2 separate regions of the Homo sapiens genome follow, and region 2 is linked to region 1. The links come from fine-mapping of genetic effects on gene expression. A gene starts in region 1. The other region holds a variant in brackets. All regions are shown on one strand. Distances are between the middles of the regions.

The links. PIP is the estimated chance that this variant, and not a neighbour inherited with it, causes the effect.
Region 2: its variant is the best candidate, but not a certain one, in a credible set for the expression of CASP2 in whole blood (TOPMed, PIP 0.79).

Annotation. Positions count from the first base shown.
Region 1 is chr7:143,285,241-143,290,240 of GRCh38, reverse strand. It overlaps CASP2 (caspase 2), which reads right to left and starts at 1,890. Exons shown (of 11, transcript NM_032982.4): 1 at 1,712-1,890. The coding sequence starts at 1,785. It overlaps TMEM139 (transmembrane protein 139), which reads right to left. Exons shown (of 3, transcript NM_001282876.2): 1 at 4,796-5,000; 2 at 4,039-4,300; 3 at 2,193-3,817. The coding sequence starts at 4,283. The coding sequence ends at 3,412. It overlaps TMEM139-AS1 (TMEM139 antisense RNA 1), which reads left to right and starts at 3,907. Exons shown (of 3, transcript NR_133932.1): 1 at 3,907-4,264; 2 at 4,403-4,523. RefSeq lists a silencer at 1,514-2,263 and an enhancer at 4,058-5,000.
Region 2 is chr7:143,369,069-143,374,589 of GRCh38, reverse strand. It overlaps a transcript of FAM131B not described here. Among named protein-coding and RNA genes, the nearest start is that of FAM131B, 9.1 kb to the right of the region's middle. The variant A/G (reference allele first, on the strand shown) is at 2,373.

The sequences.
Region 1 (5,000 bases):
AAAATACAAAAAATTAGCCGAGTGTGGTGCTGCATGCCTGTAGTCCTAGCTACTCGGGAGGCTGAGACAGGAGAATCGCTTGAACCTTGGAGATGGAGGTTGCAGTGAGCTGAGATCATTCCACTGCACTCCAGCCTGGGTGACACAGCAAAGACTCCGTCCAAAAAAAAAAAAAAAAAAAAAAAGGGAGGGAAAAAATGTGTATCTTAGAGTCAGTGAAATACCACACATCTATGGAATGGATGCACTTGGCTTGCAGATGCTATTGGGTGAGAGATTTATAGTTAGAAGAGGGAAGAGCTGGGTCCTGGAAGAACTGGGAGAACTAAGATAGCAGGTGGGATCCTAAAACAGATGAAGTGGGTTGGAAGCAGCCAATGAATCTGAGGTTTGGAAAAATGAGTCTGAAACTCCATTTTTTCTTCTTTTTACTGTAATATTTCCATTACCCAAGACTTTCAGGAAAAACTGGCTACAAGAAAAAGAGCTATACAAATAAAAAAACCTATTTAAGAATGAATCACTTTCGAATACGTCAAAGCAGTAATAACGATCACATATAACACTGCAGCTGGGATACTAACCAGTGGTGCAGCAGATTTCTTCCATTAGTTTACCAGTAGTATTCGCTCCTTAAATCGTTCTCTTCCTCTGGTTTCCATGACAGCATTCTTTGGGAGTCTTCTCTCTGCCTACCCAGTTCCTGTTTTCTTTAGAGGGCCTTTGGCCTGCCCTTAATATTGATATTCCATTAGGGACGCCCCTTCAAAGAGCCTTTCCCTAGACAATCTCACCCATACTTGCAACTTACTGACTTATAGTTCTTAACTCTCTCGAGTTCCAGACTTGAATTTTCAATCAACTCTTTAGTTTTAATCTGAAGCATCACCCCCTCTGCACACCCGCTCCTTCCTCTACTCTGTAGTATGAGAGTCTTAAACGTGAACATTATAAAAGTTTCCAATCATTTAGAATTTCAGGACACAACTGGAAGGGGAGGAGGGGCGAAGGGCACCACGGAGTTCCTACGTCTTAATTCTGTGTCCTTCTGCAGGTTCCCTTTGCGAAGACCTTAATCTTCAGTCTCGAGCAGGAGGCATTACAATGTTCTCCTGGGTGATGACTGCCATGAAATGGAATGACCGGGGCAGAGGCATGGACACTCGGAGCCACAGGAACCCCCTTGTTCTGCCAAAAGTACTCAATTTCCAAACCCTGTATTGACTTCTTTGAAAATCTGGTCATTCTATGCAAAGCCATGCAGATCATGATACAATCGATACAAATCAAATGCACATCAGGCAGAGCACCGAGGTCTGCAGAAGGTCTCGTCGATTTTTAAGGAGACAGAGTATGGTCTTTTTATAGTTTCCCTCATAAGGGAGCCAGAGGAAAGGATGAAGAATCTTCAAGAGAACCCAAGAGCGGGCAGGACTGCAAAGACCTCCCCTTTAGAACCCTCGTGGGTTGAACAAAGGGAGGCTGGGGCAGTCTTTTCCCACGAGAGACAAGGCCAAGAGGTCCGCCCGCGGGCCCTTGCGCGGAGTCAGGCTCGGAGCGGCTCGGGCGGGCGTCCCACCCTTGGCAGGAAGCGCGGACACGGCTGCTTTCCGGGGCTCCGAGGGGAGGGGGCTGCAGGGCCGCACGCCTGGGGGCCACGCTCCCCTTCCCTGGGCTCCCCTAAGGAGCCCTAAGACCGTTCCCTACTTACCTGCGTCCCCTGTCAGCGGCCATCAGCTCCTTGTGCTGGAAGGTGGACCAAGACCCCGCGCTCGGCGCCGCCATTTCCCGCTTTTCCCGGGCTCTCCGCTGCGCACCGCCCACAGCCCAAACAAACCGGGGGCCGTCGCTTCCCCCACATCCCTCCCCTCAGACGCGGACGCACACTGCGCCTGCGCCTGCGCCCTGCCGCGCCCACACACCAGGCCACCCAGTCCCCGGCCCGGTGCGTGCGCAGGCGCAGAGCTCTAGCGGCGGCCGCGCGGTCCAATGGGGTGAAGTGGGGTGCTCGGCGGACAGACAAAAGGAGGGGAAGGAGCGGGGCGGGGCAAAGGGCGGGGAAAGAGCGAGGGCGGGCGGGTGTGCTCCGTTCGGCCTGGGAATCCGATTGGTTATCGATTCCCGCGGAAATCACCCCGGTGCCTCTCGCGCCCCCTGGCCGGCCTATGGCGATAACTTCACGGAGACGGGCGTGGCTGGAGTTTTGCTTTATTGAAGTTGAACGGTTGGGGCCAGGCTGCGAAGGAGACTGAGAGCGCGACAAGGCCCTGGACAGATGCCCGCGCGGGGAAGGAAGGCTGGCTTAGGAGGGGGCGTCAGCTATGGTTTAGCAGCTTCCAGCGACCGAAACCTACATCACAGCCGCAGCACACAATTCCAGGAAACCTGGTGCTCAATATTGGGATCTCAGGAATCAGGACCGGCGGCTGGGGTGAAAGCCTAGCGGTCAGAGCTTAGGAGTGAGGCAGAAGCTGTTAGAGACTCTTCGCAAGTGACCCCGGGGCTACATATGGATGATTCAAGAGGGAGTCTCCTCGCCAGAAAGTTCACATGTTTCACTCCTTCTGGCCTTCATACCAACCCATTGTTAAAACTGGAAGTCCCTCCACCTGGGGTCACTGACTCCACTGTTTTCAGATAGGATGGGGACCCTGCACTGGAGACTGCTCTCTAGCCCCTGGGCAGGAGAGGCACAGACACTGCTACGCACGCGGAGCAGGGATCACCAGCGCTTTGACTGACTTTGCTCGTCCAGGAGGCTGGGGACATGCGTGCCCATGCTCAGCCCACCCCCTCTGTAGACACAATTGGTCGCCCATTCTGTTTATAGGAAGTCTTCCATCCTGCACCAGCAGCTGTCCCTAGACAGGGATTGGGAGACATGCAAGTTGCTTGGCTTCCTATTACCTTGTGTTGAAAACACAATAGGCTTTGGGATCAGGAGTTCATTCCAGTTATTTTAATGTTATTTACTAGCAGTGTGCCCTCGTGCACATTATCAAACTCCTCTGACTCTTGGAATCCTCATTTTTCAATAATAACTCACAAAGCTGTCAAGCCTAAGGGTTCTAACAGCTCGAACAGCACCTGGAACAGAAGCAATAGCCGCCACTCAGAGGTTACTTCTTCCTTCTCCGCCTTCTCTGGATCACCTCCCTACCTCATCCTCAATCTAACGCTGGAAATATTGGATATGGGGTAGGTCACCAAATGTTGCCAGAAGACTCAAATTATGCCACCCATATCTCAGCTGGGAAGGGCTTACCGTGGCCTGACTCTCCTCAGGGTCCAAGTCCCCATTTATGATGTCCAGGCAGAAACACTTGTTTCTGACACATAGTAGGCGCTGGAAAATGTTAGTCAAATGAACGAGGTCTGGTGTGGAGAGAAGAGAAATCTTGGGAGAGTCATTTAAGGGGGTGCCCAGTTGTCCTCATAAAAAACACTATCATCATCAGGGTGACCAAAGCAGACATCATAGGCAGGGGGTGGAGTCAGAGGCTCTAATGTGGGGACTGCCGCCAAGCTCTGCAGATCAGGAGCAGTGGACACAGCCCGTGGTCCCCGAAGCCGAAGGTTGATTGGAGCTCTTCCAGGGCTTCCTTCCTGGGCCATGGACCCCTCTGAGGCCATTCGCCTCTGTTCCAGTTTGGCTCTCCTGGACCCCTCTGGATGGCTAGGTTGTTCCTCCTCAGGTGCTGGGGGTATCACAACAGTGCTGTAGGGGGGTGGTTGGTCCAACTCTTGGGGGCGGCACTGGGATTCTAGTCCCACCACGGCCTCTTCATAGACTGGCACTTCAAAGGCTTCATTGTCCCTGAGGGAAGAGAAATAAGGCCATTGGTGGCTTCCATGAAAGAAGCCCTTTTTCCCTTTTTTTTGTCTGCTGTGGGCAAAAGATCCTCTGTTGGCCTCTGACCCCTCCTCCCGCTGATGCCAATGACAGGAAACCAGAGACTCTCTGCCTCAGAGACTACAGGGAGAGAGGGAGGATGGGCCCAAGGTGTATTCCTCTTACGATGCCCACCCTTAACTCACCGTGCATTGCCTGAGGGCCCTGGGCTCTCAGTCTGCATTGATTGGAGCTGGGACCGAAGCCCCCATTCCAGAAACCGGACCAGGAGATAGGCAAACAAGAAGAAGCCACCCAATGTGAGAAAGAAATAAGCAACGGGGGTGATGTCCGTCTTTATGCCCAGCAAAGCCAGCCCCAGTAGGAAGGAGGCGCAGCACAGGAGGAGAAGCGGCTTCTCCAGTCTCCCCAGTAAGTGCATTGGCACCATGGCCCCTCCCCAGGCTCCTGCAAAAAGACACACAGCTATTGTGTCTACACTAGCAATTGGTGTCATGGCTGTGTCAGATACCAAAGTAACCATATGATATTTCTTTGTTTGGTTTCTAGGTTCTTCAATCTCAAATAAATCATCTGTAGAGTCCCCTCCAGTTCCGAAATTCTCTCTATGTCTTGGAGTGTGTGGAATAGCCAGGAAACCAGCCCAGGAGCTTTGACTCCCAGCCATTCTGTAAGTTGACTGTGTCATGGCTCTGCCTTCTTTCCTTTCTCCTTCCCTGTAGTCTCCCTTCCAGCTTTGTCCCTTACCACCATCCAGGATCCGGTCCTGGGCACGCCCTGCCTGGGGCTTCAGTGCACACTGGCATCTCTGGAATTCAGGTGATGGGGCAGGCCCTGCCCTTCCTCTGTTATTGCTCCTACTGGATCTCCACCCCCACCTCCCCAGCCAGAGGCCCTCAATCCAGCCCCGTTAGAGAGAAGAGGGGAGGGAGCCCCACTTACCCTGTCTGACTCTGTCTTTTCCTTTCCTCCGGTGTTAGCCCATGCTCCAGGTGGAGGGAGAAAGTGCACACAGGCGCACCAAAGCCACAGGGACACAACTGCTTGAGAAACAATTGTACAGGCAAAGGCCCAGCACAATGGCCGGAGGCCCTGATAACTCCTGTCCTCTTCTAGACCCCACATCTGCCAGGGCCCTCCTCTACCC
Region 2 (5,521 bases), 84 kb before region 1:
AATGGGGAACTACCGCAGAGTTTTCGATTGAAAAGAGGGGCGTGAAGAGACTTGGGAATTTTGAAAGTGTCGCCTTAGGGGCAGTGTGGAGAGTCACAGGAGAGGCCAATGCAGATGTGTGAAGGACAATTAAAAGGTTCTGGTAGAGCTCGAGGTGAAAGGGAGGAGATTTGTGGAAATGGACAAAAGTGGATAGAGTAGAGAGCTTTTTAGGACATGAACTCGTCCACAGAAAGAATGGGACAAAGGGAGAAAGAGACATCACAGGCCCATCCCAGCTTCTGGTTGGTACCTATGTGGAGCGTGGCACTCTCCACTGAAAAGTACAGGTCTGGGAGTGAGATTGTGTGTTTCATTCTGGACGTACTGAGAATGAGTAGGCGCACAGTGGGCAGTAGGATATCCAGGTCCAAGGCAGAGAAAAGAAAATTATACTGAAGATCCACATTTATAAGTCATCTACCTCCAAATAGCAATTTGAAGCCATTATTGGCTGAAAAAAAAAATCACCTATCAAATATTGCATGAACAGTCGAGAGGGCTAGGATATGGGCTTTGCTGGATTCTAGCATTTTATGGTTAGGTGGAAGAGGGAGGTATGCACTTTCTGAGTAAAAGTCACCCTCACTCAGATGCAAGGCACATCTGCTCTTCCCCAGGCCTCTGTGTCTCTGCCAGCAGTAAAGAAAGGATGCTTACTCCTCCCACTTTGCCTACACTGTGAGCGCAGGAGTGCCTTGCCCACAGTTGCTCGCCTGGAGACCACCAGAGCTAATTTTATTAAGTCCTGTATTAAGTCCCTTTTATTAACCCCAGAATGTCACTTATGGAAAGAAGCCCTAAATTCCTAGCTCCTGCTACACCTTGGTCCCTGGCTCAACTCCTGAAAACCAGTCCAGGGTGCCTTCAGAGCATGTAGGCCCTTTTCAGCAAGCATTCCTCTTTTTTGAGCATCCTCTCTCCTTCTTATTCTAACCTGGATCATCCCTGAGGACACACCGCCTCAGCGCCCCCCACCAGGTGGCAGACAATGTTTTCCCCATAGCCCTGAATGTGGAACAGATATCTCTTTGAACTCTCATTGCTATATCCAGACAATTCTCCCTCCCTCCTTCCTAAAATCCCCCAGTTTTGAATGTCACGTGATTAAACTACACAACTACTGCACATCCTATATAGTCATCTGTTGCCCTGGGTCACACACCCTCATTTCTTTCTCTTGCTCTGTCACCCAGGCTGGAGTGCAGTGGTGTGATCTCAGCTCACTACAACCTCTGCCTTCCAGTTCAAGCGATTCTCCTGCCTCAGCCTCCTGAGTAGCTGGGATTACAGGTGCGCACCACCACACCTGACTAATTTTTGTATTTTTAGTAGAGATGGGGTTTCACCATGTTGGTCAGGCTGGTCTGGCACTCCTGACCTCAAGTGATCCACCTGCCTCAGCTTCCCAAAGTGCTGACATTACAGACGTGAGCCACGGTGCCTGGCCAAGAGTAAAAATAAATGAATAAAAAGAAAAAAAATAAATGAGTAAGCCTATATACCCAAACATGTAACCACTAATGGTGTAACCACTATTTTTAAAATTATTTATTTATTTATTTATTATTATTATTTTTTAATGTTTTTGACATGGAGTTTTACTCTTGTTGCCCAGGCTGGAGTGCAGTGGCACAATGTCGGCTCAACTGCAACCTCCGCCTCCCGGGTTCAAGCGATTCTCCTGCCTCAGCCTCCCAAGTAGGTGGGATTACAGGTGCCCACCACGACACCTGGTTAATTTTTGTATTTTTAGTAGAGACGAGGTTTCACCATGTCGGCGAGGCTGGTCTCGAACTACTGATCTCAGATGATCCGCCTGTCTCAGCCTCCCAAAGTGCTGGGATTACAGGCATGAGCCACTGTGCCAGGCCTTAAAAATTATTAATGAGGTATTTTACTTTTTTGGCACTAAGTCATGGGAATTTGGTGTGTATTTTACACTTACAGCATGTCTCAATTCACGCTAGTCCCATTGCAGGTGCTCAAAGGTTACACATTGCTGGTGGCTCCCACATTGCATAGCAAGTTCTAAATAGACCCTGAGCCATCTCTGTACAATCCTAATTTTAAGCCACACTTTCTCCAACCAGCTCCTTCTATTTTTCTAGTCATTCTCTTTTTGTGCTTCGACAATCCCTTGGCCCACTGGAACTTGCCATTCACGTCCATACCAGCTCACATTTCCTGGACAATCATTACAGTCACTCCCTTACATCTGTCTCAACTTCCTGTGCCTCTTTCTCACCCTGTGGTGCTCACTTGGCAAAACCCCAGCCTGGGCTGAGTCCAATTCTACCAACTCCATGCCTGCACCCACACAGCTGGGTGGC[A/G]CTACAGAAAAACATACAGCCCTTCTGACAGATCTCATTGTAAACTCCATGGCTGTGAGCTGCAGATGCCATCTGACCTTTCTACGTCCTGATAAACATACCAGTCTCGTTTTTCCATCCACTCTCCCACTCTGACTCTCTCAGAAGGCTTCTAGACCTTCTCCTCTCTCTCCACATCTCCTTCCACATCCTCATGCATAGCTGATGCCTTGCTTCCTGTTGCAAGGAGAAAATTAAACAAATTGAAAAAAAACCTTTCCTAGGCTCTACCTACATCAAATCAAACTAATCCCACATGCTCTCTGGCCTCATCTCCCAGCAATCATTTTGCCTCAGCCACAATGGCCTTGTTACTGTTCCTCCAATGTGTAAGGCACATTCCCATCTCAGGGCCTTGCATTTGCTAGTTTCTCTGCTGGGAAGGTTCTTCCACAGACATCTGTATGGATCACCCCATTATCTCCATCATAGCCTTCCTCACATGCTGACCTCTCAGTGAGGCCTCCCATGACCATCCAGTTTAGAATGACATATACCAGCCCTTTCATTATTATCCACCTCTCCTTTCTTTTTTTCTTTTCTTTTTTTTTTTTTTTTTTTTTTTGAGACAGGGTCTTGCGGTGTTGCCCAGGCTGGAGTGCAATGGCATAATCATGGCCCACTGCAGCCTCTACCTCCCAGGCCCAAGCAATCCTCTCATCTCAGCTTCTCAAGTAGCTGGGACCACAGGCATGTGCCACCAGGCCTGGCTAATTTTCTTTTTCTTTTTGTAAAGACAAGGTCTCCATATGTTGCCCAGGCTGGTCTTGAACACCTGAGCTCAAGCAATCCTCTCACATCAGCCTCCCAAAGTGCTGGGATTACAGGCATGAGCCACCACGCCTGGCCCTTCCTTAATTTTTCTTCATAGTAATTATCACCTTAAATATATCATTCCATCCTGGGTTTTGGCACTCCCCCACCAAACAATTCAGTCTCTTAATTGTTGTATTGCTGTTTCTGCCCCACCACTTCTCACTAGACTATAAGCTCCGTGACAGCAGGAGTTTTGGATCGTAGAACCTAGAGAGGTACTGACATAGAGTAGGTAGGTGCTCCTTAAATACCTGTAATATGGAATGAATGAATGAATAATGGAAAAAACTAACAAAAAAAGACAAAGAAGGAGCAGCCGGAAAGTCAAGAGGAGAACCAAGAAAGAGTGTTTGGGAATGAGGGAGTAACCATGAGTCCCTCACGAGGGTATGAAATGCCCCTGATGTGCCACTTAAGGTTAGAAATGAACAAAATCTGTTAACATGGAGGCTAAGGGTGTTACTGGAAAGAAGTCCCAATCCAGACCCCAAGAGAGGGTTCTTGGATCTCGCACAAGAAGGAACTCAGGGCGAGTCCATAGAGGAAAGTAAAAGCAAGTTTATTAGGAAAATAAAGGAATAAAGAATGGCTACTACACACACAGAGCAGCCCTGAGGGCTGCTGGTTGCCCATTTTCATGTGTGTGTATTTTTTTAAATTATATGCTAAACAAGGGGTAGGTTATTCATACCTCCCCATTTTAGACCATAAGGTAACTTCCTGAGGTCGCCATGGCATTTGTTGGCGCTGGTGGGAGGGTAGCAGTGAAGACCAGAGGTTACTCTCGTCGCCATTTCGGTTTTGGCGGGTTTTAGTCAGCTTCTTTACTGCAACCTGTTTTATCAGCAAGATCTTTATGACCTATGTCTTGTGCTAACTTTTTATCTCATCCTGTGACTTAGAATGCCATAACCGTCTGGGAACACAGCCCAGCAGGTCTTAGCCTTGTTTTACCCAGCTCCTATTCAAGATGGAGTTGCTCTGGTTCAATTGCCTCTGACAGGGGAGCCCCCCGTGTGAGCTGCTTCAGTAGAGTGAAGATGCCAGATTGGGTAAGTTGAGGAGTGCAGAGAAGTAAGGAAATGGAGAAGATGAGTGCCGGCAGCTCTTTCAAAAATTTTGGCTGTGAGAGAAACTAGAGCTCCAGGAAGAGAAAGATCAAGGGGCAAATTCCAGCTCCCACCTTAGAAGGAAGACATTGCTTGCATTCCTTGGCCCTGCCCCCAACACAGTTTTCCACCATCAGTAATAAAATTCAGGCTTGACTACCACTAGCCACCTCATGCATATACATGAACAAAGAGGTTGGAAAGGAAATTCTTCTTTAAGTTAAAGAGAGAAACACCCAGCACCTGGCGTTCAAAATTTCCAGTGTCCTTTGGACCTTCCTGCCTGTGTGGGTGCCCTGGCAGGATAATTGTGATTGATTGATTCAGTGAGTGAACAGCTTTCAAGTGGACCCCCACCCAGGAGAGCAATGCCTTGTCCCTATTAGCTTATCACCATCACAAAACCTTAACCAAACGGTGGTCTGAACCTATACACTAGGATTAAGTACCCATTCTTAAATGAGCTCTGAACTCCTAAGTTAGAAAGAACAATGGTCTTTTTTTTTCTTTTAATTTTATTGTGGTTGGTAAGAATGCTTATGAGGAGATCTACTCGCTTAAAACTTTTTTTTTTTTTTTGAGACGGATTCTCGCTCTGTCGCCCAGGCTGTAGTGCAGTGGTGCGATCTCAGCTCACTGCAACCTCCACCTCCTGGGTTCAAGCAATTCTCCTGCCTCAGCCTCCCGAGTAGCTAGGACTACAGGTGCCCACCACCATGTCCGGGTAATTTTTGTATTTTTAGTAGAGACGGGGTTTCACCGTGTTGGCCAGGCAGGTCTCGAACTCCTGACCTCAGGTGATTCACCCTCCTCGGCCTCCCAAAGTGCTGGGATTACAGGCGTGAGCCACCGCGCCCGGCCAAAACATTTTTTTAACCTGTTTTATCTGCAAGAAGTTGAACAGTCTCCATAAGCAAAAAGATTATGAGGCCTGAGCTTATTTCAACAGGGCTTAATGTTATAATAAAAGTCATAGAAAAATAATGTAACATAGCTTTAGGGGTGCATCTTAGGATAGGGAAAAGAATGTTAGACTAAGAATTAGAGGACCTGAATTTTGGTTACAGTTCAGCCACTTACTAACTCAGCCACTTACTAAGTGTGTGACTGTAAAAATCTGAGAGGTGAATTTTCCTTGTCTGTGGAAGTACAGCAAGGAACTTGATTTCTAAGTATTCAACCAGT